Regions from separate parts of the Homo sapiens genome. Here region 1 is linked to region 2. A link means that fine-mapping ties the variant in region 2 to the expression of a gene that starts in the linked region. Tissue or cell type: whole blood. Region 2 holds a variant in brackets; the other region holds the start of a gene. All regions are shown on one strand. Distances are from middle to middle.

Region 1 (8,102 bases), 56 kb after region 2:
AGATTACAGGCACATACCATCATGCCCGGCTAATTTTTGTATTTTTAGTAGAGACAAGGTTTCACCATGTTTTACCCAGGCTGGACTCAAACTCCTGACCTCAGGTGATCCACCCACTTCGGCCTCCGAAAGTACTGGGGTTACAGGGGTGAGCCACCATGCCCAGCGAAGAATGATTTTTTTTTTAGACAAGTCTCTCTCTGTCGCCCAGGTTGGAGGGCAGTGGTGGGATCTCGGCTCACCGCAAGCTCCGCCTCCTGGATTCACGTCATTCTCCCGCCTCAGGCTCTCAAGTAGCTGGGACTGCAGGGGCCCGCCACCACGCAGCGCTGATTTTTTTTTTTTTTTTGTATTTTTAGTGGAGACGGGGTTTCACCGTGTTAGCCAGGATGGTCTCCATCTCCTGACCTCGTGATCCGCCTGCCTCGGCCTCCCAAAGTGCTGGGATTACAGGCATGAGCCACCACGCCCGGCCAGAATGATTATTTTTTTAAAAGAAGCCCCATAGTATACCTTGGGAAAATGCACGTGGGAGACAGCTCTCCAGCATATTCTCTTTCCAACCTGGAAGAACCTGCATAAACAAATGAGAGAGAAGTAGAATGTATCATACCTGATCAACAGTTACATATGTTGATACATGTATCAATATGTATAATTGCAAACAGTGGAGGCATGTAAGAAGATGGGAATAGCTGATGTTCCAGCTTCAGCAGGAAGACTCCAGTAGTGCAGGTACCCTTATCACCAGGGATCTACCGGAAGCAAGACATAAACTAGAGGCTTCTATCTTCTGTTCCTTCATCCACATAACACTCTAGAAGTTCCGGGCGCAGTGTCTCACTCCTGTAATCTCAGAATTTGGGAGACCGAGGCGGGCGGATCACAAGGTCAGGAGATCTAAACCATCCTGGCTAACACGGTGACACCCCGTCTTTACTAAAATATACAAAAAATTAGCAGGGCGTGGTGGTGGGCGCCTGCAGTCCCAGCTACTGGGGAGGCTGAGGCAGGAGAATGGCGTGAACCTGGGAGGCAGAGCTTGCAGTGAGCTGAGATCGCTCCACTGCACTCCAGCCTGGGCGACAGAGCAAGATTCTGTCTCAAAAAAAAAAAAAAAAAAAAAATTTCTTAGTGCAGAATGAGGCAATAATAAATCATTAGCATCAAACTGAGCTCATGTAAGGATGGGAAAAAACGTCTTGTGTGAAGCAGGAGAAAACCCAAATCAATTACCCAATGTGTTGGTTATTGCAGCTTACTCAGTAATCTGAGGAATTCAATCATTGTTCTAGACTCTCCCTCATTAGTGCATATTAAGACACTTCTACTGTAAAATAATGAGCAAAAGACATTAGTGGGGAAGAAATAAAGTTTTGTTTTGTTTTATATAACATTTTTCCAAAGTATAAAGACTGTGAGTATTCTTAATTATAGAAACATCATCCATTCATTCGTTCCATTTTAACCAAAGGCGTGGCAACAGACTTTACTTGGAGAAAGTTGGAGTTGATTAATATTCTAAACTCTAAAGCAGAATTTTATCGTGTGCAGAGATGGTGTCAATAGTCCTAACAGACAAGCTAGTGAAATTTGATTCCATTATGGACAATTAGTATCTAGGACAAAGAAAGGAATTTAGACTTTCAGATTGGGCTGGTTGATTTGTAGGGAGAAAACTGTGGGTGTGTGAGGGAGAGTTAGAAGTGGGGTTTTGGGAGAAAATAACAAGAGGAAGGAAGAAACTTGAAACCACTACCGTTTTAACAGCGCTCTTATTTTCTGCAAGTAGCTATCAAAATCATTCAGCATTTTTTATATACAAACAGTTTTGCATCTTAATAGTAGCTGATAAACAATCTCCTTTCACATTTATGCACAGGCATCTAAAAAAAAACGGTGATTTTTTTTTTTCTACTAGAAGGAAAAATACCACATTTCTTTCAAGGAAAAAAATGAAGTTAAAATCATTGCCAAAGTGAACACTGGCATTTAAGAAGCACAAGCTACTGACAGATGGTTAATGGTCTGAGTATCAGCAAAATCAAAGCAAGGAAATTGCTAAAAGGAGTCTAATCGTTCAAAAGATAATTGCGTATCACAGTTCTTCTACATTTACTTGCTACTGGTGTTGACATCAGTTGAGATATTCGGTACATCTTGGGAAGGCCGCTTGCTCAAACTTCACAGATTCTCTGCAAAAGATGTTAAAAAAAAGGTGGACTATATATTAAAAATAGAAAAATTATGCCAAAACAGATGGCATCTACTAATTGCACTAGTCAGATTTGTTTACTGAAATAATACAGAGATACAGAATTGAAGGTAGGAGACCAGACTGAAGACACAACCCCTCTAAAGTTGTGTCTGCCTCTATGACTGAACATTTTCCATTGCCTCACTCAGTGCATCTCAATAACATTTTTCTGTAAATAAGAACCACACTTTATTTGGAAAATCTAGACTTAAAAAGGTTGATTTGTAATCCAAAGAAAATAATGAAAGTGAGGTATTTGATTAAGAAATCTTAATAAAATGACTGGTTCTAACAGTCATTTAGCCCCAAAACAAACTTACGTGTATTTTAATCATCTGACACAAGTCAACTTCATTATCAAGTTTCAAACAGTGCTTGGAGATTGGTGTCTGTCTTTTTCCCAACAACTTGAACCATTGACAGGTAGTCACAGAGAGTGATTTTAATAGTTTTTATCAGCCTGGACATTCCTAAACAGCATAAGTAATGTTGCACTAAAGATAGCATACCATTGGGAAGATTTTAGAACTTAGTTCCCATGAAGACATGATTTAATTTCTCAATTACTAATTAAAAACATATCAAAGTATGTAAATTATGCAAACTTTGATCATTTACTGTTCATCAAATAGAACCAACTTCTGTTGACTATGAAACTTTGTATATAGTATCACTATCCTAATCGCTTTATAAGGTAGGAGTAAATTATTTTCTGATTCACCACTTATGGCCACATTTTGTAACATGAGAACTAGTAATGGATTGTTTTTGTAGCTGTAATTCAATCAATCAAACCAGGCTAATTCTACAGCTTCAAGTTGAATATTTCAATAAATTATATATAAACCCTATTAGGAAAATATAAACCTGGTTTATAGAGACCTGTAAAGATGTCAGGAGAACTTTCTGGCCTTCCTTGGAAGATTTCTAAATCAAAGCACACATTTACAAATTTCATTTGTTTGGGATATAAAATAATCCCAGTGTAATGTAATATATTAGTATGTTACTTGTTCTTTTCATTTTTGATCAATATTGTACGGGTATGCCCAGCCCAAATTACCTTATTTTAGTGTTCCCCAAGTATTAAGCTTAATTTTAAGCCTATAAATCCTGCAGCAAAAGAAGGTCTTATTGCTCTATCTCACAAGTGCTTAGAAGAATCTACAGGCAGTACACTGACATTCAATAGAAAATTAGTAACAGTAGGAAAAAAAAAAGCCCTTCAGTTACAGATCTAAAACTTTTCAAGAAACAGAATCTGCCAGTTCCATCAAAGCGACACATCTATTCTGAAAAATAATGTGTGCATACGTGTTCCTTCCAAAGGGAGTTCCCAGCCTCTTCTTCCAATTGACAAAGGACAAAATTATTACTGAAATACGAAGCTTCCTGTGGTTGACAGTGGAAAAATTGAGGACTGAGCAGTTCCTCGGCTGAAAAATGTCTGAATGTCAACAGGTGCAGAAGTCTCTTAATAAAGGGAATCCCACCCTACCTTCTTCTCACAGATGCCCACGCACATTGCTGTGCACAGGTGCTTGCAGAGAAGTTTTGTCTTCGGCAGCCTCTTGTTCTCTTGTCTGTTTCCTGGTATAAATGAGTGTATAGTTCTTGGGAAAGTCAGTCTTACAACTTCTCTTGTTTTCTTTTGAAAACAGCCTGCGTAACCAGAGGCAAAGAAGCAGAATGAGGTCACACTTCCTGTTGGGCTCACATCAGTGGCATTCACACTGAGGAGTGTGCTGAAGATTTCAGAGAGTTTCCTGGGCCAGCAGCAGGGAATGTGCAGCCCATGTGTCAGGCCAGCTGGTTACACCCTGGTCACTGGAGGGGTGGTTTTCTGAGCTAACTTGTCACCTTTGGCTGCGAGAACGTGAGAAAGACTCAGCGAACTGACATTTCTTGCTCATCATATGGCCACATTCAGTTATAAGTAGTGCAGAGTAGTGATCTTTGTCCAAATCACTTAAATTTATTGAGGATAATGCACTGATGCTATTAAATTCAGAATACTATTAAATAGCAAGAGCTTGATCTTATGAAAATTTCTATAGAGGCAATAGGTTTATCTAATGAAGGTTGGACTTCACAAAAAACTCTATAGATGGCATTTTACATTTACATTATAGTAGAGCTCAAAGACTTGATGGTGTTTATGGGTTCATACACATCTGTACTACTGTAAGTGATAAAAGAAATGTACATTCAAATATATATTCCAGCAACATTGAGGTACCACTGCATAGTGGAAAGAGTGCGGATTCTGGGGTCACAAGACAGAAATTCAACCTGTCTACCATCCTAGCTGTGTGACCTCAGATTTGTGACTTACCCCTCTGAGTTGCAGTTTTCTCAATTATAAACATAAAAATATATATGTCATATGATGGCTTGAAGAATTAAATGAAATAAAAGAAATGAGAAATAATCGAGTCCTCAGCACAGATGTGCAAGGTGTATTCTTTATTTGTTTTCTTAAATCAAGTTCTCTTCTGAGGCACCAGTTGGTCCGGCTGGCGGAAAAGTTAATCTCATCCTTTCCTGGGGTTCCCTTTCCCCCTGAGGTTCTGCCACATGGCAGGATCTTCTGTAGAACATGTTCTAGGCAGCAGGAACTGTCAGGAGGAGGGCCCATCTAATTTCAAAGTTCTCTGTCTCTGGAACTTCATGTCTATTCTCCATCCCTTGAGTGTAGACTGAGGCTGCTGACATGCTCCTTGTAAATAAAGTAAGGCAAAGGTGCTGAGTTTCCACTACCATGATGAGGCTTCCATCTTGTTGGACTCTATTACTTTCTTGCTTGCCTGCTTTGATGAAGCAAGCTGCCATGGTGGAGAAGCCCATGTGTCAAGGAATCAAGAGTGGTCTCAAAAGCCAGTAAGGGTCTGATGCTCCATCCAACAGCCAGGAATCCAGCCAAAAACCAAGTGTGTGAGCTTGGAAGTGGATCCTTCTCCAGTTGAGCCTTGAGCTGACTGCAGCCCCATCTAATGCTCGATTGGAACTGGGAAAGACCCAGAAGCAGACAACCCAGGCTAGCCCTGCCCAGCTCCCTGGCCCACGCAAACTGGGAAGTGACAAATGGTATTTCAAGCCACCACGTTTTGAGGTAATTTGTTACACAGCAACACATAGCAGATGCATAGTCCTAACACAGGTCACTTCCTGAGCCATCTGTCATTGCTGACTCTCTGCTGCTTTAGTGACTCCTGTAGAATATAGTCACATTTACTCAAGGCTACTCCTGGTCACATCTGCCTAAATTTAACAGACAGCTATTCTGCTTCACAGCTGTCTGGTATTCTCTTTACTGGAATTCACAGTTCTCTTCTTCTCCTTTTCCTGTTTTTCTTATCCCTCATCCTCCCTCTTCCAGCCTTGGCTTATCTCTTCTAGATGAGGGAGGAAAATCTTTCTGACTTATTCGAGACCCTCTGCTCTTCCTGTGCCCACAAATCCACTTTTCCGAAGAGCTCACATCAGAAAGACTTTGGTCTACTTTTTTTTTTTTTAAAGATCTGGCACATATTAGAACCTTATTATTAATGATCATAATAATTGCTAACTTTAAGGAGTGCTTACTATGTACCAGGCACTGTTCTAAGGTCTTTCCACATATCAACACATTAATTGTTACATCAATTCCATGGGAGATGCTGTATTATTATTCTCATTTTACAGAAGAGCAAACTGAGTTTAGAGAGTTGCCCAAATTCACATAGCCAGTACGTGATGAGTAAGTAGAGCTAGGATTCAAACCCTGATGAGATGGCTCTCGAGTTTGCTTTCTTAACCTATAAGTGTAATGATCATATCCAACGTGTGTCAGCATTTTCTACAAACCAGGCACTGCACTAAACACTGTACATATGTAATCTTGTTTCAACCTCACGTAGCCCTAGAAAATAAGTGCAATTGTTATCCACATGCAGGACAGAGGTTTATAGAGTTTGCATAAATCTTTCAAAATTGCCAATGGCCAGAACTAAATTCCAAACCTATGGTTCCCCTCTCAATCTTCTCTCTTGAGACCCACTCATCTTCTTCTTGTTTCTCATACACTAGACACGGGTCTACTTCAAGATCTTTGAGGTTAGTGTTCCCTCACCCTAAGGGTCACAGGGCTTTCTTCCTCCCCTCCCTCAGCTCTTTTCTCCACTGCCTTGCTACTAATTAATTGCCCTCCACACCACTCCCTAGTCTCTTCCTGCTTTATTCTTCTCCTTAGCACTTTTTACCAAGGAATATGTCACACAATTCATTCCTTGTAATAAGAAACGTACTCCTCAGCCAGAACATGAGCATTAAAAGAGCAGAGAATATTGTCATTTTGCTTCATTTTAATAGCCCAAGTATCAAGAGTAGTGCTTCCCATATAGTAGGTTATCAATTAATGTTTGTGGAATTAACAAATAAATTAATTACATCCAGGTAGACTTGCCTTCAGAACCTTTATTCTGCATGTTATAAATCAATGTTTCTAAAAGCATGTTCCACAGAATATTCAGTCCTCCACTGTTAATGGAGGTGATGCGTGTGGATGGGGAAAAGACGAGTGGCAAATTTCAGTACAAAAAGTTCTAGAAAGCATAGGTCTCTAATAGAGGTCACTATAGAATCTTTTAAATGATACTCGGACTTGCTACTATACACAGGAAACATGGTCTCACCATCTGTCAAAATTATTTGCCTTGAGAATCTTTTGGTCACATAATATCTCCCAAGACCCCAGTTCCAGAGCTATGTGTTGCAAACGTTCATGTGTTGCAAATGAATCACAGAGGATCTTACAGAAGTGAGGGAATTGGAGACAGTGTTTCATATCAGCTCCCACGTAAAGCCAAAACTGTTAGTCCCTAAGATACTCTTTGACAGGCGGAATGCTAAAGAACTCATGTTAGGAAATGCTGACATAAATTGATGGACTTGACAAATTTAATTTTAACACACTACAAACAACGAACAAACATGTCTGCATGCTTCCTTAAATCCCTCATGTACTCATGATCTCTCTTCCTACCCAAGCCTCATCCTGCTCTGGAACACTGTGTCCCATTAGATGGCAATATCTTCCACCCAATCACTCATGCCAGAAAACTGGGAGAAATTGCGACTCCTCTCCATGTAGCTTTTGAACACGGACTTGAAATCTTGATTCCTCTTCATGTAGCTCTTAGGCTTATCATCTAAGTCTCCATCTCCACTATCTGCTCTAGGGCTCCAGCTACATCAAATCAGTATGCATAAGCCATATAATAATAGCTATCAATAAGGTACATTACATAATGAAAAATATGAACTGGGAGGTTGTGTGTGTGTGTGTGTGTGTGTGTGTATTGCACTTGTTGCCTGGACTTCCATGCCAACATGCCAAAGTCACTTGGCCTCTCTCCAATACACTCCCCAAGCCATGGTCAGAATGACCTCTCCAATAGAATATCTGATTATGTCACTCCCCTGATTAAATTCATCAGTGCTTGCCCTTGCTCCTCTCTCCTGTGAAGTTCAAAATCCTCTTCATGGCCTGCCAGGCCTGGTAGGGTCTGGACTTGACTATTTTTCAGCCTCATTGTTCCCTCAACAGGCCCCATCTGTCTTTTTAGAATTCAACCATGCTGGCTTCCTTTCAGCTTCTCTAGCTTTGCTCCACCTCAGGCCCTTGGAATGTGCTATTTTCTTCATCTCCCATCTCTTTCTGAAAGAGCTTTTTCTCTGAGCAGCCTCTCTGACCCTCCCAGACCAGGTTATGGATCCCATAGCTGTCTGCGCTTTCCTTTCAGAGGATGCATCACAATTGGAACTAATGAGCCAAGTTTCTGTCCATGTTGGTTCCTCCTGCTAC
Region 2 (8,108 bases):
CCAGCTGGCTCTGGGAGAAAAAGAGTCTGATTGAGAGCTGGGTGCAGCAGTTCATGTTAATGAATAACATGTGTAATCCCAACGTTTTGGGAGGCTGAAGTGGTACCATTACTTGTGGCCAGGAGTTGAAGACCAGCCTGGGGAAAAAAGTAAGACCCCCACCTCTACAAAAAAAAAAAAAAATTAGCCAGATGCAGTGGTGTATACCTGTAGTCCCAGCTACTTGGGAGGCTGAGGCAGGAGGATTGCTTGAGCCCAAGGGTTCTAGGCTGCAATGAACTGTGATTGTGCCTCTGCACTTGCACTCCAGCCTAGGTGACAGAGGGAGATCCTGTCTGTAAAAAAAGAAATAGAAACAGAATCTGATTGCCCAAGCTTGTGTCTTATACATCCATCGTCCCCAAGGTTTGGGGTCTGGGTTTGAGATCAGTAGCCTTACCAAAATGTATGGACTGAGGAGGAGTGATTGCCCAAAGAAAAGGGTGTTATAGGAATCAGAATAGAAAACGAAGTGATAGAGTGTCTTCCTCATTTTTATGCTGCCATGACAGAATACCACATACTTGATAATTTAAAATGAACAGAAATTTATCGGCTCACAGTTCTGAAATGTGAGAAGTTCAAGATCGAGGGGTTGGTATCTTGCAAGAACTTTCTTGCTGTGGTATCCATGGGGGAAGATGGAAGGGCAAGAATGAACAAGAGGGGGCTTGCTCTTTTATAATGGCACCAACCTTGTCTATGAAGAGGGAGCCCTCATGGCCTAATCACCTTTTTTAAGGGTCCCACCTCTTAGCACTGTTACAATGGCAATTACATTTTAACATGAGTTTTGGAGGGGATAAACATTCAAAACATAGCACTGGGATACAGAACAGGACAACAAATGTTCACTACAAATACCACCCGGCTCATATATTCTTTCAATAGCAGCAGTCTGATCAACAGTTACTGAGTGCCTCCCCAGAGGCACTGGGAATAGAGTAATGACCACAGAGGAAATGATCTTTTCCCTCCTGGAGCTTGTAGTCATGAGGAAAGATGGACACTGGACTTAGACCAGTGTGCTGAGCACTGTGCAGTGAAGTACAGAGGATGCCTGGGAAGCTTTTCTGTCTGCCTTTCTGTTATTCAGGCAGAGGTGGGAAGGGCTACCTGGAGTTGTCTACATCTTGACTGTGAGCTCCTGAGCTGCATGGACCCCAGAACTAACAAAGGCCTGAGAGTTGAAACAAAAAATAAGGGAGGAAGAAAAGGAAGGTGGGAAGACACACCGAATGCACTAGATTTTAGTTTATGTCCTGCTTCCCTTTGGATAAAGTGTCTTTAAAACTAACTTATTGTGTGGCCATCTTGCCCCCAGGTTGGGGATGGGAAGTGGGATGACACTGGTGCAGTGTGACAGCTGATGGCACTTCCCTTACAATAAATCATAGCAGGGGGTTGAGCCTGTCATCTGGTAGAGCCCTCTGCTTCCACCAGAGCAATGGCCACATGATTGACCCCAGATGGTGGCAGCTCCTAGGCCCAAAGTCCCCCTCTCTAGGTGGCCTGCTTTCATATCTCATCAACCTTGCAGCCAAGATAATTTTCTTGGATAAACATCAAGATGTTGGCCTTGGCTATTCTTGAGTTGAGGGATGATGTGTAATTTCTTCTCTTTTGCTTATTTGAATTCTTTCCTTCCTATTTAAATAAAATGATGGTGAGTCACTTTCAAAATAAAGAAAATTGAATTAAAGAAGTTATTTTTAAAGCCAATCTTTTCTCATGCCACTATATAAGCTTACTTTCTCTTATTTGGTCTTCTCTATGACAATAAAGCCATACGATCACTCCACACTGCAGCAAGCACTTCAGAGACGGCCACAAGTCATGAAATTAGGTCTGTTTTATAAATGAGCAAAGTGAGGGTCAATGAAGTTGACTAATAGGTCCAATATCACAAAGCTAGAAATGGTGGAACTGCCAGAGTCTGTGTCTGTGTCTAAGTCTACATATATGTCTATCTGACCTCAAAATCTGTATTTTTGCCTTTATACCATTCTAACTTGTGTTAAATATTGGAAGAAGTATTTATTCAGCTAGATTAACACGGCCGCAGCTAAGCCTCAGCCCACAGTTAGTCTCTCCTTTCTATCATCTCACCTAATAACTGAAAAATTTCCGTTGTCCCAGAGGTCATAAATACTACTACTACTGTCACCACTACTATTATTATACAATAATAATGATAATAATAATAATTGCAGCTCCCACTTCAGAAAAGCTTATGATCTAGCACTGTTTTAAGTGTTAAGCATTTTGCCTGCATGAACTTGTTTAATCTCATAAAAGTTAGACGAATTAGGTAATATTTTAGTCTCATTTTAAAGACTGGGAAATTAAAGCTTAGAAACGTGAAATCGCTTGTCCAAAGTGAAAGCAGTTAAGTAGCTGGATCACAGTCTAGTCCCAGGTCTCCTCTGACTCCAGAGCTGAAGTATCATGCTATACTGCGATGCTACTCTTCGAAGGACACAGCAAGAGAGGAAACAAGGAAGATTAGGAAGGCGGAAGGCTCTAGAATGTGTTTCTTGACCTTTTCTTTTACTGAAAAAGAGAAAAGAAAATGAGAATAAAATGGAACTGCCGGCAGTGAATTTCAGCTGTCTCCCCCACAGCAGATCCCTTGCAGCCTGAAGATGAGCTTCACCCACACAAAGGTATGTTGTTTCAATTTGGCCTGGGCTGGAGGAGGGACTACCTTCCCTCTCTACAATGCAAATGCAAAATTTCATTTTGCATTGAAAGTACAAGTCCTGATTCACCAGCCTTTGTTTTACCCTTTGCATCTTATTTTCTTTTTTAAAAAGTTTCCTTTAAGGCTACAAAAGGATAAGAAAATTTTTGCAAAATGTTTCCAGCTTTTAGCATCCACCTGCTAAATTGCCCTCCACTCCCAAGTTACCCTGTCTGGCTCTCTAGCAGGTGTAGCTTGCAGCTGTAGCAGATTTTACCCTGCATGGGACAGATGGAGGGGATACAGCCTGCACAGTAGGGTAGATTTTTTTTTTGAAATACATGATCAGATCTTCATCAAAGCCTGGTAGGCAAATGTGGCATTGATGCAAAGTATGCCAAGTTGGCAGGTGTCTGTGTCTGCTGCATTGTGTTTGCAGTAGTGGGATTCCTTTTGGGGGTGGTGGTTGGCCTCTCCTGC[G/A]GCACAAGCAGATCATTTTGCATCTGAGTTGTTTTGAAGTAACTACCGTAGATACCTGCTTGGAGGAGCATTGCAGTGAGGGTGTTGGGGAGGGGGTGGAGGTGAGTGGCACAGGCGCCTTAGAGACCTGCAGTGTATGACTCAGGGTGAGCAATACATCCTCCTTGAAGTTTGCCTTCCTCACTTTTAAATGAGAGTGGGTGGCAGAGCTGCTAAAGCTCGTCAAAGTACACGGATCGTGTACTTCCCTGCTTTCTCCACCACCTTGCATAAGTGGGTCATATGACCAATCCTATAAACGAAGGGACACTTCCCAGTCAGAGAAAATTAAGACAGAATACGCCAGGCAAGCTTGGAGGCCATACAGCATGGTTACAAGATGAAGGACGGCTGGCTGATCCCATCAGAGATGATGTGGGTTTACATACTGTGGAAGCTGACCAAACCAAGGGTAGTCCTCAGCAGGATGGTGGCGATGATTACAGACAAAGAAGATAAATCACCTGGCATATAGTAGATGCGCCAAAACAAAACAGCAACTCTTTTTATGAGCTCTGTAGCTACATCAGCCTCTATGAACAGAGGCTCTAAAGCAGACCGGACAATGTTAGATAATTCCTCTCTTTATATTGCATCTCATTCATGCCAATTCTCCAAGAAACTAGATTTGAGAACCCTGAGATACAAGAAAAAAGGTGAAGGTCATCATTGTCTTTGAAAGATGACTCTTTTCATTTAATGTTTCACCTCATGGAAAACTTTCTCCTGAGTTAGCATTTCTGGCGAGAATGACTCACACAGCCTTTGATCACCAAGGCACCATGCCCCTCTCATGTGACCTTCTCAGCGGCAATCAGTAGTAGGGGAAGTAAGGGCTGTGGGTCAGATAGGCTTGGCTTTGAAATCTAGATCTCCCACTTACTTATCATCTTCGGAAACCCTTAGGAAAGTTATTCAACCTGTCTAACGTTATTAAATGTATAAAATGGCAATAATCATATCTGCTATATTAGACAGGGTTGTCCAGAGATACAGAAACAATAGGATATATGATATATTATAAACATATATATTACATATGTCACATATATTATACATAATCACATATATTATATGTCCCATTGGTTATGTGATGAATTATAAATATACATTTTTTGTATATTATATGTAATACATGTATATCTATATTACACATCCTATTGGTTCCGTTTCTCTGGAGAACCTTAACTAATACAGTATATATACACTATATATATATGGAAAGAGAGAGAGAGATTTTAAGTAATTGGCTTACACAGTCGTAGTGAGCTGACAAGTCCAGAATCCATACGGCAAGATGGCAGTCTGGAAATTCAGGTGAGAGATAATGTTACTGTCTTGACTCTACAGGCTGGAAACTCAGGCAGAATGTTTATATTGCAATTTGGAGGCAGACTTCCTTCTTTAGTAAACATCCATCTTTGCTCTTAAGGCTTTCAATGTGTTGAATGAGGCCCACCCACATTATGGAGGATAATCTGCTTTATTTAATGTCAACTGATTGCAAACATTAATCACATCCACAAAATACCTTCACAGGAACATCTAGACCAGTTTTTGACCAAGCAACTTTTCATCATGATATATCCAAGTTGACACATAAAATTAACCATCACACCTGCCTAGCTAAAGTGGTTGTTATGAGATTTAATAGAACATGCAACGTGAACTTGTCAGGGGCAGGATCAGGCACAGAATAAAAGTTCCCCAGTGATCGTATTTCCTATTACTGTTAACTTATTGCCACTGTAATCATTTCTTTTATTTTCTTCTCCTCACTACCTGTTTCTGATACTTTGGTTCTCCCTTCATGTCTCATCCCTCTCTGCTCTCAAAAAGAGAAGACAATACCATAATTCCCATTAACCCAAAGGAAGAATTCATCTAAATTACCAGAGAATCTGACCTTGTAAATGTTTTCAAAGAAATGCATTTTTTGGCTCTAGAGTATATTTGACACTTGTAATTACATGCTTAGCTGGTTCCCAGTCTGCTATGACATCTGCTCCTTGAGAGTAGAATTGTATTTCCTTCACTTAAAAAATCCTTGGTTCCTAAGAAGTGCCAGGTAATTATCAGGTGATCAATTATAATAATGATTGATTGGATTGATTGAACTCATGGATGAATGAGCTAGAACAACTACAAACCATTTATACTTTTTAGAGCAGCAAAATAATATCTCTAGTAAAAGGCGTTAAAAGACCTGTAAGTCAAAACAGTGATGTTCAATTCAGAAGTATTGAATCTCTAAAATTTATTAGGCATACATTTTTGGTAACTGAGTATTATGTACTGAATGTTTTTGTCCCTATAAGATTCATATGTTGAAGCTCTAATCCCCAATGTTATGGTATTTGGAGGTGGGGACTTTGGAAAATGATCTGGTTATGATAATGGGTCCTCCATGAATGGGGTTTGTTCTCTTATAAAAAGAGGAGGAGACACTGGATCTTTCTTTCCAACATGTGAAGCTGAAACAAGAAGACAGCCATCTGCAAACCAGGAAGTGAGCCCTCACCAGACACCAAATCAGCTGGCACCTCAATCTTGAACTTTGCAGCCTTTAGAATTCTGAAAAAAAATACATGTTTGTTGGGTAAGACACTGAATCTACAGTATTTTCTTATAGCAGTCTGAGCTATGACAGTGGGTGAGTGGAAATCCTCTACAGTCCTTTAGCATCTTCCATCAGTATTGGCCCCATGGTCTTACCCTTCTTGTTTCATGCAATGCCCTGTTTCCCCTATTAGAGAGCAAGTTTGTTGAGGGCAGGCACCATATTTTAAAACATCTGTACCTGACTCAGTTCTTACAGGTAGTAGGCTCTCAAAAAATAAATGGTGGTTAAATTTTTAAAGTTGAGTTATTATCTATATATCTCCCATACTTTAATTTACTTTCTCAATCTTTTTAGCATCTTGATGAGGTACAAAGTATATAGAGTTTGGAAGTTGGAGGGTGTGCCTTTTGGGAAATTTTATATATTAAACATGGTTCCTTCATATATATAAATGCTGATTATACATAGCATCCTGGCCACCTTTAAAAGATATTAAGAAATAAACTTTTTGTTTTGAAAATTAGCAAATACAGGAAAAGACTCAAGCATTCATCTCTCCTTTCCTATAAAATCTGAACCACTGGGCAATCAGACGGTAGATGTTTCCTTGCACAGATATATTCCCAATAAAGAAGATGTGATCAAACTGGAATATCATCCTTTTCAATCTCTAATTAATTAGATATCTAACCACTGATCAGAAATGGCTGCTGACAACACAAAATGACATAATGTCACTCTTGACAAAGAATATGACACCACCTAGGAAGTAATTGTTCCCCACAAAATTCAAAACAAAAAACGATTAAGCCTCTGTAATCAACTTTCAGTTGGCAAGAAATACAGAAGACTAAGGAAGACATTAAACTTTACCACAGACATGCGATCAGCAAAATTCCAATGGAGTAAAGTCTACAAGACAAATGATGCAGTTTTCAAAGAAACAAATTTCAAAGGTCAGGGAGGAAGAACTTATGCATTCAAAGAGACCCAATAGGCATATTAAACAAACAAATAAAACCAGGCAGAGCTATACTATAGTATTTAGAAACGTAATTGGTAATAAAAACTATAAAGCAAGATGCAGAGGTGATTATCATAAACTCAGCCATAGTGGTTATTCTGAAGGTGAGGATGTTGGAAGGGGCAGCTGGAGGGCTCCTGATACAGCTAGCAAGATTTCGTCTCTTTTTATTCTTCGGTTCTTAAAAGGGCATGCTATGGTTTGAATGTGACCTGAAAATTTCATATGTTGGAAACTTAATCCCCAGTGCAACAGTGTTGAGACATGGGACCTTAAAGAGGGGATTAGGTCATGAGGGCTCAGCCCTCATGAATGAATTAATGTTATTATTGTGAGAATAGATTAGTTATCTCGGGAGTAGGTTCCTGATAGACAGATGAGTTTGGCCCCTTTCCTCCCTTTGGCCTTCTCTCATCTTCTCACCTTCAGCCATGAGATGATGCAGCAAGAAGGCTCTTGCCAGATGCCAGCACCTTGATACTGGGTTTCACAGCTGCCAGAACTGTGAGAAATATGTTTCTTTTTAAAAATAAAGTACACAGTCTGTGATATTCTGGTACAGCAACACAAAACAGACTAAAACAAGGCATTTGCCTTATAATAATTTTTACACTATTTTCTGTTTTTCTCGTATTTGAACAATACAAGTTTTTAAAAACAGCTGTTCTGCCTATTTCACAGAATGAATGGTGCCTACATAAACATGACATTTAATAAGTACAGGAACCTCGTCTGTATTCTTCACCGTCATACTCCCAGGGGCTAGACTGGCTCTTGGCACATGGTTGGACTAAATATATATTTACTGAATGTATTAATAAATGAAACTATAAAATCAAATATATACATGAAATCATATTATGATGATGACTATTAAATTCAGCAAAGTTACAAATTCCCAAGGAGTGCATTCCAGATCACTGAGAATCTTTTGTGTACAGCAGACGTGGTTCTTTATAACAATATTGCCCGCTGCTAGACTACAATAACAAATAGGACCTGAAGAGGATTGAGGCTGGCCATTGGCAGAGAGCTGACATCCAGTGATGTACAAGTCTTCCTGGCAGCACACACATCACTAGTCAGGTCCTGTGCACCTCTGTCACAGATGGATCTGCAGGATATTAAGGTTATACTCTCCACTCCAAGTAGTGGGGCTCAAGAGCAACCATCTGGCTGGAGCCCACTGCTAGGGGACATGTCCTAAAGTCATTTTGCACAGCAACACACTTTATACACTTGGAGGAGAATCAGTGGATGTTGTGTTCATTATCTATCAC

What was found. PIP is the estimated chance that this variant, and not a neighbour inherited with it, causes the effect.
Region 1: it holds the start of TMEM71, and the variant in region 2 is fine-mapped to the expression of TMEM71 in whole blood (INTERVAL, PIP 0.98).

The regions. Positions count from the first base shown.
Region 1 is chr8:132,756,721-132,764,822 of GRCh38, forward strand. TMEM71 (transmembrane protein 71) reads right to left here and starts at 3,862. Exons shown (of 10, transcript NM_001382403.1): 1 at 3,756-3,862; 2 at 2,120-2,195; 3 at 514-574. The coding sequence starts at 2,159.
Region 2 is chr8:132,700,356-132,708,463 of GRCh38, forward strand. It overlaps a transcript of DNAAF11 not described here and a transcript of TMEM71 not described here. Among named protein-coding and RNA genes, the nearest start is that of DNAAF11, 29 kb to the left of the region's middle. The variant G/A (reference allele first, on the strand shown) is at 3,203.